Linked DNA regions of Homo sapiens. The protein of the gene in region 2 interacts with the protein of the main gene of each other region in a pairwise test. Each region holds a gene or a part of one and is shown on either strand. Other genes may lie near its edges.

Evidence for each region. Proteins that work in one complex are often made in the same cells at the same time.
Region 1: the proteins of LIPC (region 2) and ADHFE1 interact in a two-hybrid assay, tested with the Homo sapiens proteins (one large-scale study listed by BioGRID and IntAct).

The regions. Positions count from the first base shown.
Region 1 is NC_000008.11:66,463,504-66,466,455, forward strand, and holds part of ADHFE1 (hydroxyacid-oxoacid transhydrogenase, mitochondrial), read left to right. Parts: intron 1-2,952. UniProt on the Homo sapiens protein: Catalyzes the cofactor-independent reversible oxidation of gamma-hydroxybutyrate (GHB) to succinic semialdehyde (SSA) coupled to reduction of 2-ketoglutarate (2-KG) to D-2-hydroxyglutarate (D-2-HG).
Region 2 is NC_000015.10:58,438,491-58,441,990, reverse strand, and holds part of LIPC (hepatic triacylglycerol lipase precursor), read right to left. Parts: intron 1-3,500. UniProt on the Homo sapiens protein: Catalyzes the hydrolysis of triglycerides and phospholipids present in circulating plasma lipoproteins, including chylomicrons, intermediate density lipoproteins (IDL), low density lipoproteins (LDL) of large size and high density lipoproteins (HDL), releasing free fatty acids (FFA) and smaller lipoprotein particles.

The sequences.
Region 1 (2,952 bases), on a different chromosome or scaffold from region 2:
TCTACGTGATTGAGATATGTGTATATTCACAGATCGATAGGACTTTGGTAGGAATCTTAGAAATAAGCTTGTCCATTTTGCAGATGAATAACTACTATGGAATTTTGTTTGTTTGTTTGATGGCAGTGACTGTTTTACAGGAATGCTGTGGCCACTTCAGAGTTTTACACATGCAATAGACTAATCTTCGCTTATTAGTATCTCCAGGATTTAAGGTAGTGAGAAGAATATACTGGCTCCTCCAAAGAACGTCACCAGAAAGGTTATTCAATGTAGTTGACATTTGATGAAGGTTCTTTTCTGTTCAGCAGTGAAGGATTGGTTTTCTCTGGAAGAAACAACCAGGCCAGTATTCTTGACCAAACACAGCCCATACTGGTGGCAGCTAATAGCAGCCCTGTGTACAGAGGCTTTCAACTGCCATAGCCAGGCTGCAAGGGGAGCAGGCAAGAATATATTAATCTTCCAAGCTGGATTTCTAAAACCCCTGGAAAGAAACATTTACATTTCAAATCAAAACATTTCATTACTGAGGAGCGCTGTCTACCCAAATGAGCACTTCCACTCCCTGGTAGACAGGCCAGCTGAAATGTTGTTATTTCATGAACGTGCTAAAAGTAGATGTCTGAATTTATTTCGTTCCCATGTTAATGAGTTGTCCTTCACTCTTACATGCCTATAAATAATAGCACATCATTGCTTAACATATCTTAATTCTGAGAGAGTTTAGCTTTTTTATGGCAGAGCTGATATGTATAGGGACATATCACAAACTTTATGTCCTTGTCCTGTTTAACCAATCACTGGGGGCCAGAAACGCGAAACAGAAACTCAGCTCAGGCTTGGCTTCAAATACTTCTAAGAGTCCTGCACCGCTCCACCAAAGATAAACAGGATCATGTCAAGGGCCTTTGAGCTCATCAGATAAGACTCTCTCCCATTATGAACAACGTAACTTGCCATCATCTGCAGTTACAGCAAACACTGAACTTCAGTTCTTGACCCTGCACAAACACATACATAATGAGACCCTCTGCCTTGCTATGGATTTCCAAAATTCCTTAGGGTCTCTTAAAAATCTGCTGGGATGTGAAACTTTGTCTTTACCTCACCCATACTCATAGGCATTGTCCCTCACCCCTCTCTCATCTGTCCCTCTATCCTTTCTTCCTGCTTTAACTTATCTTTTAAATTGTGATAAAATATGTATAACATAAAATTTACCATTTTAACCATTTTTAAGTGTACAATGCCATGCCATTAAATACATGCACAATGTTGTGCAACCATCACCACTATCCATTTTCAGAACTCTTTTTTTAATCATGCCAAACAAGTGGTGTGTCTGTTAAACACGAATTCCCCGTTCTCCCCTTCTCACAGCCCCTGGGAACCTCTGTCCTACTTTCTGTCTCTATGAATTTGCCTATCCTAGGTACCTCATGTAAGTGAAATCATACAATATTTGTCCTTTTGTGACTGGCTTATTTCACCCAGCACAGTGCCTTTAGTGTTCATCCACGTTGTAGCATGTGTCAGAATTTTATTCCTTTTTTATAGCTGAATAATGTTCCATTGTATGGATATACTACATTTTGGTTATGCATTTACCTATTGATAGACACTTGGGTTGTTTCCACCTTTTGACTATTATGAATAATGCTGCGATGAATATTGGTGTACAAGTATCTATTTGAGTCCCTGCTTTCAATTCTTTGGGGTATATACCTAGGAGTAGAATTGTTGTATCATATAGTAACTCTATGTTTAACTTTCTGAGGAACTGCTAAACTGTTTTCTATAGTGGCTGCACCATTTTACATTTCCATTAACAGTGCACCAGGGCTTCAGTTTCTTCACATCCTCAACAACACTTGTTATTTTTCTTTTGTGTGTGTGTAATAGCCATTCTAATGGTGTGAAGTGGTATCTTATTGTTTTGATTTGCATTTCCCAAATGACTAAGGATGGTGAGCATCTTTTCATGTGCTTATTGGCTATGTATATATATATATTCTTTGGAGAAATAACTAATCAAGTCCTATGCCCATTTTTGAATTGAGCTGTTTGAGGTTTTTTGTTGGTGAGTTGCAAGAATAATTTTTTTCTTTTTTTGAGACGGATTCTTGCTCTGTCATCAGGCTGGAGTGCAGTGGTGCAATCTTGGCTCACTGCAACCTCCGCCTCCTGGGTTCAAGCAGTTCTCCTGCCTTAGCCTCCTGAGTAACTGGGACTACAGGCGTGCACCACCACACCCGGCTAATTTTTGTATTTTTAGTAGAGATGGGGTTTCACTGTGTTGGCCAGGATGGTCTCAATCTCTTGACCTCATGATCCACCCGCCTCGGCCTCCCAAAGTGCTGGGATTACAGGTGTGAGCCACTGTGCTCAACCAGAATAATTTTTATATCCTGAATATTAATCCCTTATCAGATATATGATTTGCAATTTTTTTTAATTTTGTTGTCTTTTCACTCTCTTGACCATGTCCTTTGATGCACAAAAGTTTTAAATTTTTATTCAGCCTAGTTTATCTGTTTTTTTTTTTCTTTTTTCCCTGTGCTTTTTCTTTTTTTTCTTTTAGAGACAGAGTCTTGCTCTGTTGGCCAGGCTGGAGTGCAGTGGTGCAATCTCGGCTCACTGCAATCTCCACCTCCCAGGCTCAAGCAATTCTCCTGCCTCAGCCTCCTGAGTAGGTGGGATTATAGCTGCCCACCACCACACCCAGCTGAATTTTTTTTTTTTTTTTTTTTTGTATTTTTAGTAGAGACAGGGTTTCACCATGTTGGCCAGGCTGGTCTCGAACTCCTGACCTCAAGTGATCCGCCTGCCTCAGCCTCCCAAAGTGCTGGGACCACCGCACTGGACTCCCTGTGCTTCTGGTGTTACATCCAAGAAATCATTGCCAAAGCCAATATTCCTAAAGATTTTTCCCTAATTATTCTTCTAAGA
Region 2 (3,500 bases):
CAGCCAGACCATAATATTCACAAGTGAACAGAGACAATGCCCACCGAACAGAAACATGTGCAGCACAGACCCTCCACATCTGTGTTTGCATCAAGACAGGGAGGAGGCCACTCCAAAATCAAAAAACATGACTAAACATTTCCCTCTTCTGACTAACAGGAATGACTTGTGTTGCTGTATCAAAGCCAGCTCAGCCCTGTTTTCATCTTCCCATCTGCTAGATCATTTATTGATTATATTAAATAATAATTAGTGATAACTATTAAATTATTATGATGCCGAATCATTGAATTGGACTCCTTTTTGACAGAATCCAATCCAGAATTCCCCTTGCTTTCCACCCCTTCCTTAGACTCAACCAGCACAAGCCCAAGTCTGGAGTGAGCTCTCCCTTGCTGCAGTAAACCACAGAAACTGACTTGCAATTGATGTCAGCTGTGTTCCCCATGGTCCGCGGATGGTGAATGTTTACGTCTCTAAAATGGGAATAAGAATTCCTACCCAATATTCTTTACAGGGCTACTGTAAGAATCAAGTCATATAATGCAGGTGGGAATGAATTTTTAAAGTTGAAATTGCTGTTAAGTCTATAAGTGAGTATGACGTGGAATTTCCAAATGGTTCTCTTTTCAGATGTAGAATAAGATATTTTTAAGATGGAAGATTCATATTAAGCTCCTGTTATGTGCTCCTGCTTCAGTTTCATGGGTGTTAATCTTTCCCATGATTTAGTGTTAAGCATAGCAATTCATAAGAAAACTTCAAAGAGACTTGCTCCAAGCCTTGAGGCTTGTCTTGGAGGAAAAGCTGAGTGTTTGCGGGTGTAGGGCCAGGTGAGCTTGCAAAACTGGTCCCTGCTGGGCCCCACCCCTGCCCTTGCCTGCTGGGAACCTTGTTCTCTATCAGGGAGTGGCCAGGGTTTTAGCCAGGCTGAGATAAGTCTATCAATCCATCTGGGAAAGGCAGCCTTTTAAAAACAACCCCCCTCATCAGTGGTCTGCCCTGCCTCCAGGATGAGGACAAAACTTCTGAGGATGGCCCTTCCTGTCCTTCCCTCTGGCCACTTCTTTTTATGTACCCCATCCAGGGCCACCCCAAAATCTCAAGAATTCCCAACTTCACTCTCCCTTTTCCAGCCTCTGAGTCAAGCAAGGCTGGTTCATGTTTTTTTTCCCTCTGCTTACAATGTCCTTCCACTTCTTGAAGGAAACTTCAAGATTCAACTCAGATATCACCTCCTCTGTAAAGGCTTCTCAGCTAACCTGCGCTGCCTCAGGGCTCTTGTAACATTTTGCATGTAGTGTTATTTACAAACTAATTGCATTGTGTTGAAATTATGCGCCTCTCCCAATCTCCAACCTCCCTGCCCCCACACACACCCCATAAGGGGCTAGAGACCCTGGCACAGTGGGAAGTCCTTGGTGAGTGGATGTACGCTTTTTCATTTTTGTACCCTCAGGGATATACTTTCCTACTGACCATGGGGCCTGGTACACAGCGGACAGTTTAATAAATGCTGTCACAGCTGCTGTTGATCTTGTTATGTTTCAGTATAAAGCAGTTTGTTTTCTTACCACTTTAGTTTCTCTTGGGACAAGGAAGCTGGAACATTTGTCACTGGAAAGTTTTTGGCAGTCACGGAAAGGTCAGTCCTAGTCAACGGATAACCCATAGGCTCTGCCCTGCTTTGATAATGCCTCACTCATAGGAAAAGAATTTTCCTGATCATATTTTCAGGCCTGCCAAGGAGCCGCTCAGGGTGGATGGTTAATTAGCTTTTGCAATGATTATTTTTCTACCAATTACAAGTAATGCTCAGCTTGGGAATTTTTGTTCATTTCAAGGACTGCTTTCTTTTTAGCATGTAGATATTTTATTTTGGACAAATACATTTTCACAAATATCTTGGGGTTTTAAATACTTTTGGGGTTGTAGCTACTGGGGAAGAAGTCAGTATCCAGGAGCAGTGGATGTTGATTCTCACCCCTTCAACCCTAGAAAGTTAGAAGTGAAGTGAGGTTTGCCCTGTAGCCTCGTGTTGTTTCTGTAGGAAGCACCCTAGCCTGGAAGTCAGTAACCTAGTTTCAAGTCTTGGTTCTTTTGTTTTTTCTCTAGTGGTTCTCTGTGGTCCCCACACCAGCAGCATCATTTGGGAACTGCTGAGAAACGTAAATATCCAAGTCTACCCCAGGCTCACTGAATCAGCAACTCTGTAGTTAGGGCCCCAGAATCTTATTTTAATAAGCCCTGGCCGGGGGCGGTGGCTCACGCCTGTAATCCCAGCACTTTGGGAGGCTGAGGCGGGCAGATCACGAAGTCAAGAGTTCGAGACCAGCCTGGCCAACATGGTGAAACCCCATCTCTACTAAAAGTACAAAAAATAGCTGGGCGTGGTGTTGTGTGTCTGTAATCGCGGCTACTCAGGAGGCTGAGGCAGGAGAACTGCTTGAACCCGGGAGGCAGAGGTTGCTGCGAGCCAAGACTGTGCCACTGCACTCCAGCCTGGGCGACAGAGCAAGACTCCGTCTCAGGAAAAACAAACAAACAAAAAAAGCAGCCTTTTAGGTGCTTCATTACCCACTACAGTTCCAGGATCACTGATCTAGTCAAACTCCTTTATTTTATCATTTCGTAGTAAATTTATTTTCTGATTATTTAAATCATGAAAGTCAATATACCATATACATACTATAACATTACATAAAGAGGGGAAGAGACAAAAGTTCAGATACAAACTCAACGGACGTATAAACATTTTCATGCATCTTCTTCCAGCATTTTTTCTCAAACACATGTATTTTCACACAGTTGTAATCACAGGACACACACAATGAGGCCTGCTCTTCATGTTGGGACATAAACACTACTCAGCGTCGCCACCTACACATCTTCCTGAGAACTATTTTTAAGGGCCACTGCCAGTCCACTGGAGAGCCGTGCCAGAACTGACTTCACCAGGCCCTGAATATGAACCTGCACAAGTGGAGGTGAAAACGCTGTAGACAAAGAGGCCTCCGCTTGCATTCCATGCATTTCCTTCTCTTCTCTTCACTTTTTCCCCATGCCTCCCCACCCCTAGCCAAGCCCCACTGGGGAAAAAATGAAATGAGGAATGCTTCTGGAAATAGACCCCTAAGTGGGAAGGAAAGGGAAGTTAGCCAACAGCCTCATCTTCCAGTCACCCAGAAACTCCATTCTCCTGAGCCAGAAACCCTCTCCTGGAACTCCGAAGCAGCTGAGATGTCACTGCGCTACTTTGTGACCATGTTTAGGAATTGCACCTTCTGTGGGGCAGCCGGGTGGGCGCCCTGACTCCTCCAGGGCTGGAGTGACTGGATTTGGTCTTCTCGCCCCAAGTAGGTACCTGAATGTAAGACCCGACTGCCTTTCTTACCGCGGCTCCTCCACCCGCTGCTGGACAGACTAGGCTCGGCCCCCTTGTTCTAGTTATCACCTTGGGACTGAAGTCCAGCCTGCTGGGCAGGGATCTGGAGGGTCCT